3 separate regions of the Homo sapiens genome follow, and all the other regions are linked to region 3. The links come from fine-mapping of genetic effects on gene expression. A gene starts in region 3. Each other region holds a variant in brackets. All regions are shown on one strand. Distances are from middle to middle. Region 1 holds the start of OLR1 (oxidized low density lipoprotein receptor 1). Region 2 holds the start of CLEC7A (C-type lectin domain containing 7A). Region 3 holds the start of CLEC1A (C-type lectin domain family 1 member A).

Evidence for each region. PIP is the estimated chance that this variant, and not a neighbour inherited with it, causes the effect.
Region 1: its variant is fine-mapped to the expression of CLEC1A in blood mononuclear cells (TOPMed, PIP 0.90).
Region 2: its variant is fine-mapped to the expression of CLEC1A in whole blood (INTERVAL, PIP above 0.99).

What each region holds. Positions count from the first base shown.
Region 1 is chr12:10,165,663-10,173,847 of GRCh38, forward strand. OLR1 (oxidized low density lipoprotein receptor 1) reads right to left here and starts at 6,470. Exons shown (of 6, transcript NM_002543.4): 1 at 6,340-6,470; 2 at 3,412-3,513; 3 at 1,050-1,295. The coding sequence starts at 6,415. It also overlaps a transcript of TMEM52B not described here. RefSeq lists a silencer at 2,055-2,255. The variant ATAAC/A (reference allele first, on the strand shown) is at 4,018.
Region 2 is chr12:10,126,284-10,134,468 of GRCh38, forward strand. It overlaps CLEC7A (C-type lectin domain containing 7A), which reads right to left and starts at 3,916. Exons shown (of 6, transcript NM_197947.3): 1 at 3,697-3,916; 2 at 1,464-1,562; 3 at 288-425. The coding sequence starts at 3,799. LOC105369655 (a long non-coding RNA gene) reads left to right here. Exons shown (of 4, transcript XR_007063208.1): 2 at 4,798-4,957; 3 at 5,402-5,509; 4 at 7,003-7,331. RefSeq lists an enhancer at 7,455-8,185. The variant ACTGT/A (reference allele first, on the strand shown) is at 3,864.
Region 3 is chr12:10,094,768-10,102,952 of GRCh38, forward strand. CLEC1A (C-type lectin domain family 1 member A) reads right to left here and starts at 4,218. Exons shown (of 6, transcript NM_016511.4): 1 at 4,041-4,218. The coding sequence starts at 4,155.

The DNA.
Region 1 (8,185 bases), 71 kb after region 3:
AGGCAAGAGAATCACTTGAACCCAGGAGGTGGAGGTTGCAGTGAGCTGAGATCACACCACTGCATTCCAGCCTGGGTGTGACACAGCGAGACTGTCTCAAAAAATAAAAAAAAAGAAAGAAAAATCTCAAAACTAAAATTTTAAAAAGAAGAGGCTCTTATAAAGAAGGAAAACTTAAATCCACCAAAAGGTATGCTTAATTAAATCAGATTTTTCAAGGATTTGACACAGCATAGGGTGGTTCTGATTAAAAATTTAGAACTTCTTGCCGGGTGCGGTGGCTCACACCTGTAATCCCAGCACTTTGGGAGGCTGAGGCAGGCGGATGACTTGAGGTGAGGAGTTTGAGACCAGCCTGTTCAATATGGCAAAACCCTGTCTCTACTAAAAGTACAAAAATTAGTTGGGCATGGTGGCTCATGTTTGTAATCCCAAGCACTTTGGGAGGCTGAGGCAGGAGAACTGCTTGAACCCAAGAAGCAGAAGCTTATTGAACTGAGATCACACCACTGCTTTCCAGCCTGGGTGACAGAGCAAGACTCCGTCTAAAATTAAAAAATAATAATAAAATAAATAAAAAATTGACCGAGAGCGGTGGCTCATGCCTGTAATCCTAGCACTTTGGGAGGCCAAGATGGGTGGATCACCTGAGGTCAGGAGTTCGCGACCAGCCTAGCCAACATGGTGAAACCCTGTCTCTACTGAAAATACAAAAATTAGCTGGGCGTGGTGATGGGAGCCTGTAGTCCCAACGACTTGGGAGGCTGAGGCAAGAGAATCACTTGAACCCAGGGGGTGGAGGTTGCAGTGAGCAGAGATCACACCACTTCACTCCAGCCTGGGCAAAAGAGCGAAACTCCATCTAAAAAAAAAAAAGAAAAAGAAAGAAAAAGAAAAAGAAATTGAGAACTTCTTGTATAGAACATTATGAATGAATAATGATATGCATAACAATAGACCAATTTTGAGCCCAGAATTGTTTCCAAAAAATAGTTATGATTGGACAGAAAGCTTCCACTATGTCTCCTTACCCACCCTTCTCCCAATACCTGAACAATTTGCTACTCTCTTCAGTGTTTCTTGGAGATTCAGATTCTGGTGGTGAAGTTCCATTTGCTCTTTGGATTTCTCATTCAGCTTCCGAGCAAGGGTTTCTATCATTTCCTTGAGTTCGTTTTCTGACTCCTGTGAAGCTTCTTCTGCTTGTTGCCGGGCTGAGATCTGTCCCTCCAGTTTCTTTTTCTGGTGAGTTAGGTTTGCTTGCTCTTGTGTTAGGAGGTCAGACACCTGGGATACTGAATCACAGTTGCATTAAGACTCTAGTTCTAATCCAAATAAAAATCCCTCCAGGGACTTTTTGAGGAAATCAAAACAGAATTAAATCTATTTTGACAATAGATAAGCTGCTGAAAAATGACCCAGATTTACTCAGAAGTTACAGATTTGGAGGTTCTTGAATATTCCTGCAGTATTTTGTTTAATGTCAGGAACATTGCAAACACTTGTAATTTTTTTAAAAATTACCAAGATTTTGGCCAGGCACGGTGGCTCAGGTCTGTAATCCCAGCACTTTGGGAGGCCGAGGCAGGCAGATCACGAGGTCAAGAGATAGAGACCATCCTGGCCAACATGGTGAAACCCCATCTCTACTAAAAATACCAAAGAAATTAGCTGAGGGTGGTGGCACGCGCCTGTAGTCCCAACTACTCAGGAGGCTGAGGCAGGGGAATCACAGTGCCACTGCACTCCAGCCTGGCGACAGAGGGGGACTGTCTCAAAAAAAATAAAAAACAACAACAACAACAAAAAAAACCCAAGATTTTTTTTTATTGAGTTACAAATGAAAAGTAATCACAAGATAACCAGTACAGCATTAGAATAAATAAAATAAGGAAAACCTGAAACAGACACCCACCAGACTCAGTGACTATTAGTAGGAAATGTCATTAGCGATTTACTCTATTTATGTCTCAATTCCTCTGCTGTGTCTCCTCCCATTCTGTCTACTCTTCCAGACTTCCTAATTTTAAGAACTGTGACATACACCCCTTTTTTGAGACAGCCACGCACACTGTGTCACAAGAGTCTCCAAGAATTTTTTCTTTTCTTTTTTTTTTCCCCTTGGCCACGGTACATTTTAGGAAGGGTGAAGATAAAGTGAAGGTTGTGAAATCAAGCAGGCGATAACATGTTAAGGGTCAAATGTCTCAGTTCCTGAATTTTGATGGTGCAATACAAAGCAGACCGCTTGGTTTGAAGGCAGCTTTGATCCTGTTATAAGATGATCAAAGGCTCAAAAGATTTTTCTGGTCACCACCACTAAGTCAAGGGCACTTCTCCTTGTCACTAGGAAAGGCCCTAAGTATTTACAAATTTAAAATAAAATAGTTTGTGAGCTTGAACAACAGTTAGGAAGCAAATAGCACTTCAATGGCCATAATAACCTGGATCCTGGGTAGCCTAAACAACTCAGTTCTACAACCTAAATTCACAGGCAGTTCAGGTGAACGTTGGGCACCATTTTCTTTCCTTCTTGGCCACTCTGGGCCATCTTTTCACTTCTTTTTTTCCCTCAATATCTTCTCTTTTCTAAATGCTCTTATTATAAATGTGAAATATATTTTATTTTAAATGTTTTATTTATTAAGATTGTGTTTCTGGTTCTTAACATTAAAATGGTATTTAATTATCTCTATCAAAACTCAGCAAGCTAAATAAAATTTCTTTTACTTTTGGGCCTCTCAGATGATCTTGGATATTAGTAACTTTAAGTTATTATCTTCTCCATCATTCTAGAATTTAAATAGGCTCTATCCATGAGGTTGGTTTTTTGTTTGTTTGTTTTGTTTGAAATGGAGTCTCGCTCTGTTGCCCAGGCTGGAGTGCAATGGTGCAGTCTCAGCTCACTGCAAATTCCACCTCCCCGGTTCAAGCTATTCTCCTACCTCAGCCTCCTGAGTAGCTGGGATTACAAGCATGTGCCACCACACCCGGCTACTTTTTGTATTTTTAGTAGAGATGGGGTTTCACCATGTTGGCCAGGCTGGTCTTGAACTCCTGACCTCAGGTGGTCCACCCACCTTGGCCTCCCAAAGTGCTGGGATTACAGGTGTGAGCCACCGCACCCGGCCTATCCATGAAGTTATGAAAACAAAAGAAACAAAACAAAACAAAACAAACAAACAAAAAAATGCCTACCAATTGTAATTTTTATTTCATGGCTCTATCCATTGGAAGATGAACAATATACCCCTTTATTTTCATGGTCACTCTTAAAAACATTTTGCCTAAAATGAATCTATATCAAGGCTGTTTGTAGTTGTTATGAAAGAAACTTATAAACCATATTTATTAACCTCATTTCCAACACCCCTGCCCCAATAAACATCAGTTCCGTATTTTAGCACTTACATTGCATGCCCAGCACCATAATGGTCACTACTAATCCCAGGCAAAGGACCCCTAGAGTCGCAGCAGCCAGGCACCACCATGGAGAGTAAAGAAACTGAAGACCTAGAGTGACAGAGGATAGAATCAGAAAGACAAAAAAGAGTGAACAAGTAAGCAAACCATTCCTTGGAGCCTGTCTGTACTTGGTGATTTACTCTGTTTATGTTTTAGTAAATAGACATAAATAGTTTGCATTCCATACCACTAGTCCTCCAAATGGCTCTGCAAATAATTCATCATACACATTTAGGAATGGAAAACAGGGAGAGTTAAGGAATTTAAGTAATTTACCCATGGTCACACAGCCAGTAAATTCAGAGCCAGGATTCGATACCAGATATTTGAATCTAAATATATGATTCTAAAGCTTATACTTTATCTACTTTCCCGACAATTACTCCTCAAGAAACTCACAGTCTAGCTTGGTTGGATCAAATTCATCCACAGTGCAGAGAGCCTGAAGTTTTTAATATACACCACGTGTACACATGTGCACACAAAAGTAACATAAATATCAGACATCAAGCAAACAAGCTTTCTTCAGTTAATCAACTGAGATTACCTCAA[ATAAC/A]TTTATGAATAATTTTATGCTATTCAATTATGAGTCCACCAAAATTACAACCTGGAACTGGGGTTATTAATCAAAGAAAAGTAGGGATGAAACCTTGATATTAATTTAGCTTATATTAACAGCATATCCTACACTCACGCCAAGTGTAGGCTTGATTTTACAAGAGAAATATTCACCATTTTGAAAAAAAAATCACATAGCTCACAGGTGTATGAATATACAATTATGTGTTCCACCACTAAAAAAAAAAAAATCACAGATATTACTGGTTGTGTAGGAAAACATCCCATACAATGTATTTGGTTTCCTCACCTTGTGAGATAAACAAATAAGGTACTCCTATCATTATCCTCTGTATGCAAATAAGGAGACTGAAAGGTTTAGTGACTTGCTTAAGATCACACAGATGCTAAAACCCAAAAATAAGTCTTTAGTCTAATTGTCAGTAGCTACATGACTTGAAATATTATAATACAATTTCCAGTGTGAATGTATAATGATCCAGTCAAGCAGTGGTCAGATATATTCAAAGTTTTCATATGTCAAAGGTAGTGTGTTAGACTCCACAAATGATAAAAAGAAGATAGAAACTTGACAGGGATAAATATGGTTCATCTTCTGATTCAATACTTACTGGCTTCTAGAGTGTGTGTGGCAAGCTAGCAGAGAAGTTGTAGAAGATAGCTGTGTCTCTTGCAAATAATTGCCTAATTCTAGCCTCAGGGGCAAATACCTCTATGTAAATCTTTCAACTCTGTGGTCACTGTTCATTCCACATTGTAGGGCATCAGATACCCTCATCGTGCTCTTTTTTTTTTTTTTTTTTTTGAGGGGGAGCTTGCTCTTCGCCCAGGCTGGAGTGCCATGGCGCCATCTCAGGTCACTGCAACCTCCGCCTCCTGGGTTCGAGTGATTCTCCTGCCTCAGCCTCCTGAGCAGCTGGGATTGCAGCCGCGCACCACCACAGCAGGTTAAATTTTGTATTTTTAGTACAGATGAGGTTTCACCGTGCTGGTCTCGAACTCCTGACCTCATGATCCGCCCACCTCAGCCTCCCAAAGTGCTGGGATTACAGGCGTGAGCCACCGCGCCTGGCCTCATCACTCTTAAATAATGAAAAACTAAATTTTTAGAGGAAAAAGAAAATCACAGGACCCTGTGAAGGAAGGTATGTGTTCCCTTTTTCTATAGATTCTCTTTGTCCTGTGTCCTTGGTAGGCAGAGACCATTAATCCAACTGCTGCCCCTACTAGTGATTTTCCAATCATAAACCAATCCGATTCTTTGCAGTAGGTACCGATCTAACCAAGATTCTGAAAGAAAAATCAATCTCATGATTATTGTAAAATTCAGACCCTCAATATTTACTACACAAATAATGAATGAGTAAAGAAACGAATGACTATTGTTCACTTCTGGTTTTACCTATAAATATCAGCAGTTTTTATAGCAATTTAGTTCATTGGCTCAAATGTTAAATCACTCCATGCTCACACTTATGTTCTCTATTGAGAGAAATTTCTGTTTTGTTTTTGGAAATGTAATTTGGAATTTCTTTATCCAAATTTCTGACAATACTTGTCTCTCTTTCTCTCCTTATATTCTGTTCATTTTCCTCAGAACAGATATAGAATAAAAGGCAATTTACCCAGATTGTCTGTGGAATTGGGATTATGAATTAATTTATAGCTATGCAATTTAATTACTGTATGGGTCAAACAGAACTTACAATTTTTCAAAGCAGTAGTACACAACAAAATGTAACTTATGCTAAACTATACTGAATATCATTTACTTTGCCTGCATAATTCATGAGGTACTTCAGGTTTTTGTAGTGCCTGAAGGACTCTTACAGAAATTATCGTTATATACACCAGATAAATTTGGTTCCCGAGCCCTCCGATGTATAGAATTCTGGATAAATGGGAGTTTGTGGTACAGTCCTAGCTCTACCACTTATTAGCTCCGTGAAACTGGATGATGTTGTTAGTCCTCCTGATGCCCAGTTAGCTCTCTGTAAAAGGGAGATAGTAATAGTACCAATCTCAAAATGTTATTGCGAAGATTCTGAGAAATAATACTCTGAAAGTGAATAACATATAGAATAACCTGTAGTAAATACTCAGTATAAATTGTTATAAATAAGTTGTCATCATCATCATCATTATAGCCTTCTTGTTTTTCTTTTAAGTAAATGGTATTAATTCTATTTTCCCATACTTGGGTGTTTAGCTTTCTAATCCCATTCTTCGGTGAATTTACATTTTGGGGCTAACACTGGGATTCTTTCCCTGTACACATTTTCCCATCCCTAGTACCTTTAGCTTTTTTTCCATTTGACTTCTCATCAGGCTGGTCCTTCACAGTCTGGATCTTTAGGTCATCAAAAGTCATTTCCAAATTCAAGCTAAGAATGAGAGAGTGAAGCAGTCACGAACTTCAACAAACTAAAAATATGTGAGCTTCTGCAGAAGTATTTAAATAGCTACTGTTATCTAATAGAAGAATGACTCAATCATTGGTAGGAGGAAGGAGAGGCTTTGCTTCATATTGGGAAGTTCGCTGACGCAAATTCTTGAGTTATGTGTATTGCAGGTGGAGAAAGTGGTGATTCTGAAGGTGTTTCAGGATATTTCGCTAAGTAATTTATGAAAGGGAAAACTATTTTTCATGAGCATCAGAGGAGAGATATTGTACCCACTCTTCAGAGACAGAAACTGAAATTCAAAGAGAGTAAGTCACACTACATTTGTAAAAAATGTGCCAGAATTATGGGCCAAAATATTTGATTCCAATGTTTGTTTGCTAATTTCATTAGCAGACTGTTTCTATATGGTGTCTTTTACGAATCAGATATATTCTCTTTTGATTTTCACTGTTTTATCTGGCAATGGATCTAAGAATTTTGGGGTGAATCACATATGGCTCCCATTTCCAGCGATGGTGTGTCCTGGGTGATTTTAGAATTTATCTGGGGCTACTAGTTCATGCAGTGCCAGTGTAACGTAGCAGCAGAGAGCACTTTGAATGCAGAAAGAGCTAGTTTCAGTACTTTCCTTTAGTCTACAATCTTGGGAAATCTTAATACTTTGAATCTATGTCTTTGTCTGGAAATTAGGGATAATGTCTACCTGATAACATTGTTATAGGAATTCAAATGACATGTCTGGAAATTAGGGATAATGTCTACCTGATAACATTGTTATAGGAATTCAAATGACATGCTGGGTAAAAATAATAAGCTTTTTTACACTAGGTTTGTGAAAAATGTCACGTTGCTATAGGAATTCAAATGACACGCTGGTTAAAAATGACAAGCTTTGTACTTGGAGCATAATAAGAAGCCAATAAATAATAATTATTAGTATAGTACTAATATTCAGCACAGTTGAATTACCCATCAAATAATGTATTTCAGTAAAATCCATGATTGACTCATGTCACAAAGACGCTTACATGAGAGACCCATAAGTATGTCTATATGTATTTACTGATAGAATACTTTTCTATTTTCCCTTGACAACCTCCTAACCAGATATATATCTATTAGAGATGTCTTCTGAAGGAAGTATTTATAAGCAAAATGATATGATATCTGGCATTTACTTTAAATTACTCCAGGAAAAAAAAGTGCAAAGAAAAGAATACACAAAGGAAGAATGGAAAAATAAATACATAAATAAAACATATAGGAAACTATTAGGAAAAATTACCAATATTGACAGCCTAATTAGGATTCCATTTCCCTCCTCCTCCCTGTTTCCTATATTCCTTTTATTATGTGCAGAGTATTTGAGAACAAATTGAAAAAGTTGGCCAGGTGCAGTGGCTCATGCCTGTAATCTCAGCACTTTGGGAAGCTGAGGGGGGGGGTGGATCACTGAGGTCAGGAGTTCGAGACCAGCCTGGCCAACCTGTTGAAACCCTGTCACCACTAAAAATACAAAAGTTAGCTGGGCCTGGTTGCAAGCCTATAATCCCAGCTATTTGGGAGGTGGAAAATGAAAATGCTTTTCATTTTCAGTGAGCTGAGATTGTGCCACTGTACTCCAGCCTGGGCAACAGAGCGAGACTCCCTTTAAAAAAAAAAAAAAAAAAGAATTAAAAAATACTGAAACGATATCACACTGAAAAGGGCACATTATCATTTCTACAGTGACTCAG
Region 2 (8,185 bases), 32 kb after region 3:
ATCTCCTGTAGATCTAAGCACATAGCCAGTGATAAATCAGTTACTGATTTTAAAAATTAATAAAGTCCAATTTAGAACTGTCCAGCCAACTGCATAGGGTACTTATAATTTCACCTTATTGTATATATGACAGGGATACATTACACTAAGGTAATACTAATATGTGTATTTGCCTTAAATTTACAATCATTGAATCTAAGTGTTTTTCTTTACACCCCTGCCCCAGGCTTCAGCACCAAGAATTAACCCTCTTGAGTCAAGATTCCGTCCTTTAACTATGCCCTTGCCTGTGGTTTTGACAGCTTTGGTAGGAGTCACACTGTCTTCTAAAGATGATTGTGTGGGTTGACTGTGGTTCTCTTTATTTCTTGATAGAAAGTAGCCATTCTCCAATGTGTTGCTTCCTGAATTGGATCTCCAAATAGCTTCACATACCAACAATAATAATAGTGACAGAAAAAATGTCATTCTGCTGTGTTTGAAAATTAAAATCCCAAAACCCAAATGTTATTGGAATAAAAGAATACATTATTGATTAATGATAAATAGATGATATATTGCTGTGGAGAGATAAAGACGATTGATAGAATAGATGAAAAGAAATACATAACTTTTATAAAGGAGGTATAGTAAAAAAAAAAAAAGAAAAGAAAAAAGAAGGTGGAGAAGAAGAAATAGAATGAGGGAGGCAGCAAGAGGCAAATGTCATAGAGTCAATTGGACCCATGACAGATTTGAAATAGCAACATCTTTCACCTTTCTTCTGTTATTTAAAAATGAGAGATCCTTGAGAAACTGCCCAGTACCTATAACATAGAACGCACTCAATAAACATTTGACTAATTAAGGAATGTCATGAAGACTCTCTGAAGGTGACTGACAACAGATTGCATGTGATATAAAATGTAAAAAAAATATTAATCCATTACAAAATATCGACTTAAGACCAAGTGCCTCAGGAAATTTCTGGTGTATTCAAAGGTGTTTATATTAAAGATCGGAAATAATTTCCTTAAATAATGTGAATCATAAAAATAGCTTAATGTCCATTTAGTGAATTTATTTCATTAGGAAGACAGCACCATATTGTACTTTCTTCTTCAGCTCCGCTTGTTTTCTTCATTAATTTATCCTTTGAATTCCACAGCTTTGAAACCAGCTATGTAAGGGAGGTAGGAGAGCAATGTAGTTAAGAGTATGAGTTTTTTAGACAGATCACCCAAATTTCTAATCATGGTCCCACCACTAACTAGCTTATAACCCTGGAAAGGTAAAATAACCTCTCAGTCTCTCACACCCTTTATAAGTGAAATGGGCATTAACAGCACCAACCCAATACAGATAAAACCAGATTATATACAAATTAAAGTAGATTATGCATGTCAAGCCCTTAAAAGAGTGCCTGGCACATAATAATTGCTTACTAAATTGTCTGTTGTTAATCTCCTCCACCAAATACTCACCCATGGTACCCAGGACCACAGCTATCACCAGTATTACCAAGCATAGGATTCCCAAAATTACAGCAATGAGGCGCCAAGGAGGAGATGCAGCACACGATCCTGAGGAGCCAGAGGGGGCAGAAATGGAATAAAGAAAGAGAATGACGGATGGTGGGGCAGTTTAATTCTACAGTTCATCAAAAATCTGGCCTTGCACGGTGGCTCACACCTGTAATCCCAGAAGGGAGACTGAGGTAGGAGGATTGCTTGAGGCCAGAAGCTCAAGACCAGCCTGGGCAACACAGGGAGACCCTGTCCCTACCAAAAAAAAAAAAGAAAAACAAAGAAAGAAAAAAAATTTAATTAGCTGGGCATTGTGGTGAGCTCCCGTAGTCCCAGCTACTCTGGAGGCTGTGGCAGGAGGATCACTTGAGCCTAGGAATTCCAGAGCAGCATAGGCAAAAAAGTGATACCCTGTTAAAACACACACACACACACACACACACACACACACACACACACCACCAACAACAACAACAAAAAATACTGGCAAATTTTTAAGTGAATTATTAATCACTGCCTAGGTTACCTGGTCACCTAGGATTTGCTGTGCTTCTCCACCAGTAAGGATACCTTCTTCTTCAATTGCTGGAATTGTAATTTCGGCACATTGGCTTGATAACTGTATGCTCCTAATTTCAGTTCCACATTGACATCTACAGGTCTTGACATTAGTAGGATCCCTGAAATCCCACTGATTCTTAGAGGAAATAGCTTAATGTTGGGGAGATAGCACTGATTACTAAGGGTAATTTTCCCTTTTCATATGTTTGTTGCATGACCCTGGGCAAATTACTCCCTTTGTTGTTTTTTATTCCTCTTTGTGAAACTGGGGTAATAATATCTCAAAGGATTATTGCGGGAATTAAACGAGCTAACACATATAAAAGCACCTTGTTTAGAGACTGCTAGCACATGATAGGTGTGTTGTTGCAGGATACCGTTTGCCTACACATATGCATAAACATGCGCATGTCTCCCTACCTCTTGCCTCATCCACTTTTTCCACGCTTCCTCAATAGGTTGCCCAAGAAAAGAATTACATCAGTGCTGAGAGGAAAATATTTGTGCAGTGTGAATAACCAGAAAGCAGAAGAAAGCAAACTCTGGTGTCAAAACCGACAAATGATCTCTCTCTCTCAAAGATAATAGGGAACTAATTTTGTATGAACATTGCCATAACCAGAATGTATTTCTGCTTTCCACTGTGACTAAGCTGTCAGGACATTTCATAGAATTGTCACATAGGAGAATCGTAGAGTAGGCTAAATCACCCATTCTATGAATACAGAGATCCTCCAATGCCCTTCTTTCTATTTCATTTCATTTACACTTTGTTTAAGACTCATGTCCTGCTGGTGGGATGTTTTTATCTACCATATGTTCATATATTTTCCATCACTGGTATACCAATAATTGTTTTTTGTTTAAAAACAATTTAAATTAATCTCTTACCACAAAAAAAAAATGTTGTTCATATATATACTTCTTTAAGTTTCCTGGCCTCCATTCGATAATCTAGCCTTTCTATCAAACAAGCAACAAGTCACTCATACAGAAATCCTTTATCTTTGTGTATTATCCCACTTATTACCAATTCCTCACTGATGAAATGTCTATATCTATAGAAAAGAGAAATTCTATTTTCTGCCATCAGACATAATTAATTTAAACACTAATAATTGGTCACTGAATAATTTTCATGAAAAAAGGTTTAGGGTGCATTCAATTTATCTTCAGTGACATCTGAAGCCTTTAAAAGTATATCCATAAAAATATACACATCACGAGGCTCTCAAATTTTCTCCCCTTATATCTTTTTGTTTTGTTTTTATTTTTATTTTTTTTCAGAGATGGAGTCTTGCTCTGCCACCCAGGCTGGAGTGCATTGGCATGATCTTGGCTCACTGCAACCTCCACCTCCCAGGTTCAAGTGATTCTCCTGCCTCAGCCTCCCAAGTACCTGGAACTACAGGCGTGCACCACCATGCCCGGCTAATTTTTGTATTTTTAGTAGAGACAGAGTTTCACCACGTTAGCCAAGCTGGCCTCGAACTCCTGACCTCAGTCAATCCACCCGCCTCGGCCTCCCAAAGTGCTGGGATTACAGGTGTGAGCCACCATGCCTAGCCTCCCCTTATATCTTTTCAAACGGGAGAGCTAAAGGCACACATTAGAAAAAACATATATATACCTTTCTCTGAAACAACAGCTATCCTGGTATTGCTTTGAGAGTCGAAGTGTAATTGAGTATATCCATCTTCATCCAAATTTTCTAAATCAGGATGATATTCCATTGTTCTTGAGAGCCCCTGAATAGATATAGCATTTGGGAGCTCTTTTCTTTCTGCTCCTGAGATG[ACTGT/A]CTGTGGACAAAAGAGAATCTCTGAGTCAAATCATGTGGGCTAGGTACTTACCGGAGTTTAACAAATTAAGCTTAAGTAGTTCAACCAGATATTCAAGAGCAGGAAATGAAACTATGCTGTGGTAATTTTCCATTTGTACCTTTAGATCCTGTTTCTGAGACTGCTGACTCAGGAAAACTAAAAGGCAGCATAGCAGATGAGTCTTTGTTTCAGACCAAATGTAAGAAAAATGCATACATTAATGTCTTATGCTGCCTTCATTACTCTCACAACTAAGTCTGACATTAATTAATTTAACCGATGCAAACTATTTCAGTTTTGGTGCTCCAAGTTTACCATAACTTTGTTCATGTATTTATTCATGTATTTTTTAAATTACATAAACAGGTACTGGATGCCCACCTTTTCAATTGGTAGGAGCTTACAATACAAGGAAAAATGATACCTATGAAGAAACTCATTGCTTAATAAAGGAAATATATAGATAGGTAAATGAGGGATGGCATGAGGAGATGCATTGTTGTAACAACAGACAGAGAAAACAAATCTCTTTGGGAATTATCAGATATTAACACAAAATAACATTTATTGAACAATTACTATGAGCTAAGTACCACATGTTGTACATATTTTCTTGTTCAATCTCACTTTTCCAAGTCTATATAGTAGGCATTATTATTTCTATTTTCAAATGAAAAAATGAGACAGAAAATTTAGCCTCTTTCTCAGGTTTAAGAAGCTAATTTTAAAAATTTAGAGCAAGGAATCAAATCAAAGCTGACTCTTGCTGCAAAACTCGTGGTCTTTTCTGTTACGCTACACTGCCTCTTTCATCATTCCATACACTTATATTGCAAGGAACAGCTTATGGAAGGTGTTGGGACTGAAATATTATGTTAGATGTTTGATTTTTTTTCCCTCTCTTCCAGTTTCCATAGTAATGATCAAATCAAAGAAATATAGAAAACACCTAACATTGCTGGAAACTGAAGAGGTGTTCAACTCATTTATCCGACCTTGAAGCCAGTAGAGTGCAGGAGACATCTGAGTGTTGTCAAGGATCAACAAATCTGGATACTAGTTAATGTGGTGAGGACAGGTTTTATTCAGTAATACTATTGCAACAGGAACCAGTGCAGCATTAACTGAACTCAACTTCCCCAAAAGTAAAGCTGATGACATTTTAAAGTGGAGTTTGCTAAGGAAAAGATACTGAGTGGTGTTAAGGAAAGTTAATGTGACTAGACTCTCTGGATTTGTTAATTGGCCCTTATCCAGAGGACAGAGAAACTTTGCCTATCTATATGACAGAAGGACATGGTGATAGTTGAAGTGAAGCACCCAGCTAAGTTGGTCCTTATGCTGCATCTGAAAGAAAGAGCAAGATTTATCTCCCTGAATGTTTGCATTTCAAAGAAACAGCTCCCAAGTCCTTGAAGAAACAGTTCTGTGTGGTAGATTTGCTTCTCAAAGGGCAGAGAAAGAATTTAACTGTAAGATTTATTTTTCTTTTCTTTCTTTTTTTTTTTTTAGACGAAATTTCGCTCTTGTTGCCCAGGCTGGTGTGCAAATGGCACGATCTCGGCTCACCACAACCTCCGCCTCCCGGGTTCAAGCGATTCTCCTGCCTCAGCCTCCTGAGTAAGCTGGGATTACAGGCATGTGCCACCACGCCAGGCTAATTTTGTATTTTTAGTAGAGACAGCATTTCTCCATGTTGGTCAGGCTGGTCTTGAACCCCTGACCTCTGGTGATCCGCCTGCCTCGGCCTCCCAAAGTGCTGGGATTACAGGCGTGAGCCACTGCACCTGGCCTAACTGTAAGATTTCTAAAGTAACTGCTCTAAAAGGAATTCAGGAGCCTATCTGTTACCAAGTTTTTTGTTGTTGTTGTTGTTTTGAGACAGAGTCTCGCTCTGTTGCCCACGCTGGAGTGCAGTGGCGCGATTTCGGCTCACTGCAAGCTCTGCCTCCTGGGTTCACGCCATTCTCCTGCCTCAGCCTCCCAAGTAGCTGGGACTACAGGCGCCCGCCACCATGCCTGGCTAATTTTTTGTATTTTTAGTAGAGACAGGGTTTCATCGTGTTAACCAGAATGGTCTCGATCTCCTGACCTCGTGATCCGCCCGCCTCGGCCTCCCAAGGTGCTGGGATTACACGCATGAGCCACCACACCTGGCCTGTTAACAAGTTTTAACTGGAACAAAAAGTAAATTCTCCTAGCAGCATTGGGCTTCCTCAGGCTGGCCTTTTAAGTAGTGCTGAATCATCCTATGGACCTTGCCTTAGGCTACTAGAAGGCGTGCTAGAGTTTGCCAAGTCTCTAGTGCAGAGATTTGGGAGGAGTTGTTATATGATGAGGGCTCTGCAGTTCTGACAGTCTAACACCTATCAAAATGGAAGAGAGCTCAAGAGAGTACATAAATGAGCTTCCCGCCTTACTTAAGCTGCCACAAAAGTTTTACTAAGTTTTTGTAGACATGTTGCAAAGTGGTAATGTGGATCTTAATCTCAACATTCATCAGTGTTTCAGTCCTATAATGCAGTGCTTGGAAAGCAGCGTATGAGGTTCAGGACATGCAACCCCAAAATATGGATTCTTGGCATTTGAGAAAACAGCAGAATCAGGAAATTCACTCTCACACCTTTCCCCGTCTTTCTGCCCTGAAGCAGATCATAAGACCCTTATTTTAGAAGTATTGTTTCCTAGAGGAAAGAAACTTCCTTATCTTTGAAGATACAGAGATGCCAAGAAGAATCTGAACAAATTAGTCTTGCTAAGCTCCCTCCAGTTTATTAGCATTAGATCATACCCTCCTTGTCCAACGTAGGGGAGAAAAAGTAGTATCTTTTCCTTGCCCATCACCAGGTTCGTGACTGAGACCCCTATAACAAAAGACAGATTAACAAAACAAAAGCATGTAAATGTTATACGACAAGAGAGCCTTCTGAAATGAAGACGCAGGGAAAACTGAGTATTTCTACGGACAGTTATGCAGAAGTATGACTGGAGAACAAAAGGGTATAATCTAATGGTAATAAGCTGAGTAGAACTTAACAAGGCCTGTTTGTTCAGGTAACTTCTATTAAATAAATTTGGATGCTATTCTCTTGTTGATCTATGTTTTATTGTAGATGCCGTGAACCTAGCAATGAGTGAGGAAAAGGAATCTTTCACCCCTACAAAGGGATACCATGGAATTTCTCAAACAGTGAATACATTGGCTCCAGGAAAAAGGGTCGACCTCTTAAATAGAAATAGAGAACTAGAGAACAATAATGAGGGGAGTACCTTGCAGTCAGTAATAAGAAGCTGTCTTTACTATCAAATCAGACCTCCAGTGGGAGAGTTTTTCCCTATAGTGACTTTGACTGTCACCCTGTGTTTAATCACAATCCTATGAAAACAGTTAACTCTCTAAGTGGTCAAAGAAATTTTTCAATAAACATAAACTTTAGTCTAATTCTCATTATTCTCCTTTTTTGTCTCTTTGTCTAAAATAAAGCAATTAAACATTAATTATGCAAATCATTGACAAACTAGAAAAACAATACCCTTCGTATTTCAAGACAGTGGGAGAGATAGGCTGGGTATTCAGAGAAAAATACCCCTCATTAAATGTTAATGCAAGAAACAGGTGGAAGGCCGAGCATGGTGGCTCAGGCCTGTAATTCCTACACTTTGGGAGGCTGAGGCAGGTGGATCACCTGAGGTCAGCAGTTTGAGATCAGTCTGGCAAACATGATGGAACCCCATCTCTACTAAAAATATAAAAAATTAGCTGGGTGGGGTGGCAGGTGCCTTTAATCCCAGCTATTTAGGAGGCTGAGACAGGAGAATCACTTGAACCCAGGAGGTGGAAGTTGTAGTGAGCCAAGATCGTGCCACTGCACCCCAACCTGGGCAACAACAGTGAAACTCCATCTAAAAAAAAAAAAAAAAAAAAAGGAAAGAAACAGGTGGAAACAAACCAACCTAACAAAAGAAAAGACAAAAAACAAACCAGTTATCTAACTTACATTTTCAGTGAAGTTTGTTGAAAACTTTCATCTATAAAACAAGTGGGTCATCCAAGAAAAATGAGCAATCTGGCCGGGTGCAATGGCTCATGCCTGTAATCCCAGCACTTTGGGAGGCAGAGACAGGCAGATCACCTGAGGTCAGGAGTTCGAGACCAGCCTGACAAACATGGAGAAACCTCGTCTCTACTAAAAATACAAAATTAGCCAGGCGTGGAGGCGCATGCCTGTAATCTCAGCCACTTGGGAGGCTGAGGCAGGAGAATTGCTTGAACCCAGGAGGCAGAGGCTTCAGTGA
Region 3 (8,185 bases):
ATGAATTCTGAAAGCATAAATTTAATCATACTTCCTCTCTTCCATAGGAAGAAGTTTCCCAAGGCTCTTTCTGTTTTAGTCAGTTTCTTAGTGTACTGTATCAGGCTCCTCCTAATAGGATCCCATTTTACTTCTTAGCCTCATGGGTCCAGATCATGTCACTTCCTCTGGGAACTCGCAAAACTAAACTCAATCAGTAACTCATTCATTCCTATATTGCTTCTGCGGCCTCCAACATTGATTTAATAGCACTAAATGACATTTACTACAACTATTGATTTAGAGTATTCCTTCCACTTCTCTAAGCACCTGAAAAAGAGGCTCCTCTAGTACATCCCATAATGTCTTGTCATTAGTAGGTTTGATTTAAAGAGTTGTTGAATCAGTTAACAGCGATTTATGTCATGACTGTGATGAGGGATTTATGCTGTAATTGAGGAAATAAAACTAAAACGCTGGGAAATTCAATAGTACTGTAATTAATGTGAACAAGGGAAAAGAGGAACTTGAATTTATTATTAAATTTTTTAAAATTATTTAACCAAAGTAATTTTTCATATTCTTTTGATAGGATAAAATTTAGTCTCTGGCAGGAATCTCAGCCTGTCAGTTATTTCATCCTCTCTCCTCTTACTGTACTGTTAATGTGAAGTTCTCTCCCTGAACTTATTTTCAATCTACAATTGAGTTAGAATTTCCCACATCTTAAAAAATCATTCTTAAAATCTGTCACCCAATGCTGTAATACCTCAGCAATAACCCATTTTATCTTCAAAAAAAAAGAGAGAAAGAAAAAGAGAAAATGACTTAAATTGTTTATTTTATTATGTAACCATCAGTTCCTTTTCAAACCACTGCTGTCAAAACTAAATATTTTCCTCCTTATTGATAAATTGTTAAATAATCATTTTAGTCTTCCTTTCGCTTAAACTCTCTGCAGTATTTGTTATTTGTTGTTTTTAAAACTCACAGTCATTATCATTGACTTTTCTAAAACTCTTGAATTTATTGTCCTTCCATTACTCTAATTTTCCATTACTCTTGAATTTATTGTCTCTTGATGCCCTTGTTGTCTCTCTCCAAGACTCCTGCTTCTACCACTCTCTGCTATTCATCCCTGGTAGCTCCTTTTGGAATCTTTCATTCTTCTTGCTCCTCAGGTGTTGATATTCCCTCAGATTATCTCCTTGACACTCTCTTCTGTTCATTCATGTTTTCATTTTACATTCCTTCCCTCAGTGATCTCACTCACTCTCATACATTTTAGTTACTAGCCATTTATTTGACTTAATGACTTAGGTACCTCATTTACTTTATTTATTTAATTACTATGCCAGTAATTCCCACATGTCTATGTAGCCCAACCCACATCCTGCATATACGGGTGTCTTTGGACAGCTCCAAATGCATGTCCCTCCTTCTGCAGACCCCTTAAACTCAAACTCAATTCATCATCTTTCCTGTCCCTTCTATAGTTTCTGTCTCAGTTAACATCAGCACCATCTACATTACATCAAACAGAACCTAGTCAACCTACCACCGAAGTCCCTTTCCTTGTCTCCTCACATGTAACCAATCACCGATTATCTAAACTCCAACACCTCGACATCTTTCATATCTGATTCTTTTTCCTTATTTTTACTATACTGCCTCAGTTCAGGTTTTTCTACCCTTGTACTGGACTAGTGGAAAAATTTGGTATCAGCACATGCAGTTTCATATACCTTCAACTTATCATTTCCATTGCAGCCAGGAAGGTCTTTCCAAAATGCAAAATTTTGTTTCTCCCTATCTAAATCCTGCATTGACTTCATTTTAACTATTGAATAGAATTAAACTAGATCAGCATGCCCTAAAATCCCTCCTTAACTTGCCAGACTTACCCCTTTGCTAAGTTTCCCTCCTCCAACTCTACACCTACGCCATACATATTGCTTATAGTTCTCTAAAAATACAAAGCTACTGAAAACCTTCATGACTTTCCCTTCATACGTCTCTCTGTCTATAGTGTCCCCAGCCTCTCAAACACCCTCACTCCCGATTCCTTATTATGTGGAAGATGTTAAAATTAACTCAACTCCACAGTTGCTCCTTCTGTTAAGCCTTTCCTGAACTCCTCTACTTAATTAGGTAAAAATTAAGCCGAGAGCTTGGTTAAGCTCTCGGCTGTACTGTACATGCTTCTGCCATAACACCTTATTATACTTACTCCTTAGTTGAGAATTGTATTAGACTTTCAATTTCCTTATGAACAGGGACCATATCACATTGGACATTATATCCTCAGTACTAGGATAACATGACCCCAAACATAAGTTTGTGAAAAATGTATGAGGTTGTTGTTTTTCATTTTCACTATCTTAATTGTTTGGCATTTTTACTATCTTAATTGTTTGGCATTTTTAAACACAAACATAGTTGTTACGTCAATTGTTATTGACAAAAGTCTAGAAATTAAATGAATGTGTGTGTGATTTATTTTTATTAATTCTAAAAAATAAAAGTTGCCAGCTCTTAATGGTATCACATCATTATGTTGAATCTGAATCCTCCACATTGCCGAAAATTTCTGAGTGATTTCTGCTGTTATTTTTATCAGCGAAGGTATATCAGATATGTTTATCTAAGAAATAATTATACTTCTATGATGGTATTCCCCTAAATGTTTGTATTACCATAAAAAGATGAAAACAAGATCTCATATATGTTGCCTAAGATAACTATTTCCAGATGATTTCTTCCAAGACAATTCTTTGTAATCTCCACTTCTACTGTTTCAATATCCATTTCTTACAAAGAAGCTCCCAGATGTTGCAGCTAGTGTTTTATCTTGCTCCACCTCCCTCTCCACCCTTCAACCTCAGCAGAACTTATTTGTACATGCTGTTCTTAATTATGCTGATCTCTAGTCCTTGACAGAGTTCCTGGCTCCAGTCAAAGGTGGAAAATGAAGTTATATACAAGCTACTCAAAACCACAGCCGTAAAAATGGACTCTTCGTAAGTTTTTTTGGAGGAAAACGCTTTGTATCCTATTACACATATCCTGTGGCTACAAAAGCTGACATCCCTACTTTTGTCACTTAGCTTCATTTCAAAGAGGTTGGAAATCCCCAATGTCCCTTAACAGCTTACTGGGTAGTTTAGTTAAAAAAAAAAAAAGCCATATTAGTAGGTTTCAGGTGGAGGGTCATTTAATAAATAGAAATAAATAGAAAGTGAATGGAGGGTTTAGTAGGAGAAAGGAAGGAAAACTAAAAGTTATTTGATAAAGAAATAAGGAACAGGATAGTTTTTTTTTTTTAAAGGTATATCCAGATTTACAAAGGTGAAGAAAACAATGATATAATCAGAAGGGAAAGGGCATATTAAAACACAGGCACTGAATGAATGTTAAAATGTGGGATTCCTTTCAACATTCCATTTCTTAAGAACCTAAAGTGTTCCTTTCAGCAATTTTGTGTCAGTCTATATCAGATCAGACAGACATTCAAATATTTTACATAATTTATCATTCTCAGTACTCACAACCACCTTGTAAAGGAAGTTTTATTACTTCTATTTAATATTAAGTCAAGTTAATATGAATTAATATACTTAAAGTATTTAAAACACTGCCAGCACATAATGAGCCCTTTATACATGTTTGTGGCCGTTAATATTTTATAAATAAAGAATATGATGCTACCAGGATACTTAAACAACTCATCCAAAGTTACACAGAAGGAAAGTGGCATACCTGGTTTAGGACCTAGAACCTAGTCCTGTGTATATTACCATGTGAGTCCTTTTCACTAGAACTGAAGTCATATTTTAGCTTTAGATTGGCTGAGTGGCCCAGGAAATAAAATCCTTCTCTAAGTGTGGGAATTATGGAACTGAATATAACTGAAAAAAAAAAATCACTACTATGTCACAGGGCGAGTAATTGGAAATAAAATTATAAGATGCAAGCTAAATATCTCCATTTCTAGGAGGGATAGATCATCTCACACATTTCACAAGGACTGTGGTCTATTTGGACTCCAGGAGACAGGGTACCTGTGCGCCGGGGCTCTGGATGCCGAGTTGTGGCAGAGCCTTGAGAATGCAGGCTCATGGTGGTGTCCCCATCATCATCCAGCATGTCCCTCGTGCTGCTGTACTTGGCCTGCATCTGGATTCCTACAGCGGTGAGAGTGAAATGTGGTCGGATTGCCCTGGGCCGCCGGGCTACTGTGAGCTAGTTCAGGAAGCAAGGCACTAAAAGGCATTCCTAATGTTCTTTCCCAGCGAGGGGCAGGGAAAGTCTCTGACTGCAATTCCTGACTGGACAGGCCCAGCCCCTCTCCTGTGAGCTTGTACTCTGAATGCCAAATCAGTCAGGCTGAGGGGAAATAGCATGTGTTTTCTGTTTAGGCCGTCTCAGTCTAAACAGTTGTCAAAAAGTTGGCCTTTCTCAGGTCTTTTTTGTTTACCTGTTTGCATTTCTCATGTAACTTCACTGTAAAGAAGGCAAGAACTTACAATAGCACGGTGTAGCACTGTGGTTCCTTCAGAGTCTGCAGAATAATAATAACTTGGAAGGACACACATCCCTGTTTCTTACCCATCCTTTAGGGAGTCACTTAGTTTAACCTCTCTGTGTCTTTGTGAAAAGAGAAGAGATTATAGGACCTAGCCCCTTCCTTTCTCCAAGAACAGAGTAGTGGTCTTTCTTATAGTATCTGAACTTGATTCAACATTTTATAGCACATTTGGTACATTATGATCACGAGGAATTATACAATTTACTGGAAGTAAAAACTTTTAAAACTATTACTAACCACCATGTGGTTTGGGGAAGCCAGTTCATTTGTGCCTAAATCTCCTAAACTGAGAAGAAAATGTTTTAGGTAATGTGAAAAAATTCTTCCTGAATCAGTACATTAGAATTATATTCCCATCTTAGTCTGTTTGTGCTGACCTACAACAGGATACCTGAGACCAGATAAATTATAAGCAATAGAAATGTATTTCTCAGCATTCCAGAAGGTGGGAAATCTAAGATCAAGGCACTGGCAGGTTTGGATGTCAGGTGAGAGCTGCACTCTCTGTAGAGGAGGAAGGGTATTCTCACGTGGCAGAAAGCAGAAGGTCAAGCCAGCCAAATGCTACATGTAGCGTCTTTTATAAAGGCCTTAATACCATCCTCAAGAGAGAAGACTTCAAGGACTAATCATCTCTTAAAGGCCCCACCTCTCTCAATACTACCACACTGGCAACACCTGAATTCTGCAGGAAACACATTCAAACCATAACAAGACAGGTATCAGTAACAACCTTGTGCCTTTGGGAGGACAATTAACAATTTGCATCTACATTTCCTAAACTGAAAGACAAGAAGATTGTTTTAGATAATGTCTAAAAGTTCTTCCTGAATCTGTACAATAGACTTATATTACTCTACCAAAACTTTTCCAGATGTTAGGTGATAGGTGGGCAAAATCAAGCATGCTAAATATAAAGGAGTGTCAGAATGCTCCAGTTGGGGTAGCCAGACCATATAAAAGATCTATGAGGAAGTGCACATTGTGGATTCACATGTGTTTCAAGCTGTTTGTTGTTCATCAAATTATTCTAAATTTTTTAAAAATTGGAATTTTTTTTTTTTTAGATGGCAGATTGGAGGCAGTGTTAGCATGACTCTACCACTTGGAAGGACAAAATAGTGAGTAAAAAATTCTCACTGTGGGCCAGCCATGGTGGTCACGCCTTTAATCCCAGCACTTTGGGAGGCTGAGGTGGGTGGATCACCTGAGGTCAGGAGTTCGAGACCAGCCTGACCAACATGGCAAAACCCCGTTTCTACTGAAAATATGAAAATTAGCCGGGCGTGGTGGCGGGTGCCTATAATACCAGCTACTGGGGAGGCTGAGGTAGGAGAATCACTTGAATCCGGGAGGCGGAGGTTGCAGTGAGCCAAGATCACACCACTGCACTCCAGCCTGGGCAACAGAGCGAGACTCCATCTGAAAAAAAAAAAAAAAAAAAAAAACCTTCTCACTGTGAACTCTTTTCCCAAGAAGCAACACAGGAACTGAACAGGAAAACTGAAAGAATCCACAGACTCTTTGAAAGAAGCAGCAGGTTATACCTACACCATGAGCTAGGTGAAAAACTGTAAGCTCCCAGGGTGTGTGAGGTGAAGAGACTGGCTCCAGGATACATACCCCCACAGGGGAACCTGAAAGTCCATGCCATGGGGGAAGGCCTTAACCCGTCCCAGCACTGGAACCAATTAAAAGAGCAGTGATGAATATAAAAGTAAGAGCAGCAGCAGGAAGAGGCTTGTGTGCATTCCCAGTCTCCAGCATGAGCCAAGGGAAACTATTCCTTATGCCTCACAGACAACCTCACGGAACTCAGCCAACTAGCTCAGCCAGGGGTTGCACATTGTAAAAACTCCCAACTGAAATTCACAATATAACCTCAAGTGAAATGAACTCCCTTGGCCAGAACCAGAAAGGTGAGTGGGAAATGTGTTGCAGCCGTGAGTGCAGGATCTGGGTGCCAGCTGTGTGGGTGGACAGAGAGGGGCATGGCCTGAACGCCAGCAGTTGCTATCACCACGGGAAAAGTTTATGGCCTCAGGCAGTTGTGAGCTCTGAGTGCAGACTGCCTGGAACTTAGCTCACTGCTGCTAGCAGAGTACTGCAGGAGCCAGATCTGCCTTGCCAACTGTGTGACATCTGGGTTAGGCTTACTGCTGCCTACTACTCCCCACTCCCTGTGCAACCACATCTCCAAAAGGGGCCGCTGCTTGCCATGCACATGGTGACTCAGAGTGCAGACCCACCTAACACAGCCCTCATCTGGCTTTGCCCCTCCACCCACCGTGGTAGCTTAATACAAAGGACAGAAACCCTGGGGAGATTTATAGCCCCATCCATCACCTGAGAAGCCAGACTACCTACCCTGGGCAACATAAGGCAAGCACAAATCCCACTGCTACTACCACACCTGATACTCTTTTGCAAATGCCACCCAGTAGCTGGAAGCCTACCAACACAGTCCATTGCAGCATCTGTAGGTGGAATAACACTGCACTCAAGAAGGACAAAACTACTGTGTGACCTCAGCTATTACCACTTCCTGCACTACCCTGTCTAACCAGGAGGTCCTGAGTCTATCCACATGACCAGTTTATTACTACCTGAACTAGCATTCAAGAAAGACAACACACTAAAGTTATCTATAATCAAGGAATCTCACAGGTCTATGTCACGCCTCTGGCACCCCCATCAGACCTGGTGCTGATAACAGCTGCTGGAAAACTGGAGGACAGGTCATATCACTGGATCCTTAGCAGACATCCCCCAGCACTAGTCTGGAGCCACTGAGTGGCTAGACCCTGAGGAGCAGCAGCACTCATAGTAGTCTGTCTCTCAGGAACTTCTACTCCTAAGGAAAGGGAGAGTGTGCCACATCAAGGGAACACCCTGTGTGAATAAAGAATCCAGATGGCAGGTCTTAAGGATTAGATTGTTCCACTGGTGGGAAGTTTCTTTCAATAGAGGCAGAATTGAAGTGCTGGGCTCAGCAGGGAATGTCTACAGCTGTCCCAACAGTCAGACAGCCCTGGTGCTTATCAAGGATCTTGGAGAAGGGGACTTCTTACCAACCTCGTCCACCACTGCAGACACAGCTGGGTCTTCTCCCACAAGAGCTCAGCATGGGTGCACCCATAGACAGACTTTGTAGAACACTTCAGGGTGACCGCAACCCCACAGGGGAAGCAACCCTCCAGTTTCAGGCTTACATAAGAGGCAGAGTCACAGTTCTCTACTTGGAGCACTAACATTCCAGCAGATGAAAAGAGAGGCCTGTCTGATCTGAATAGCCAGAATATTGGGACAGATGTGAGTCTGGGAGATGGATAGCTTCCCAGCTGACCTGACAGGGGAGCTAAGGTGGCTACCACCCTTCCCCTGATAAGACTTCAGTGTGTCTCCCTGACAGCTCCCCCAGCCCCTTTTGTCAAGGCTGAGACCTCTGCCCACCATTGGGTATTGCATTTACCCACCTTCTTTAGCCACAACTGGTTCCTACCTAGGAACACCTCCACTACTGGCCTGAAGCCTGAACCATCAACCCAGTGAATAAAATACTGGAGCAAAGTAAATAAATTTAAAAGTGCATACCACATTGGAATGAGATAAGCTTCC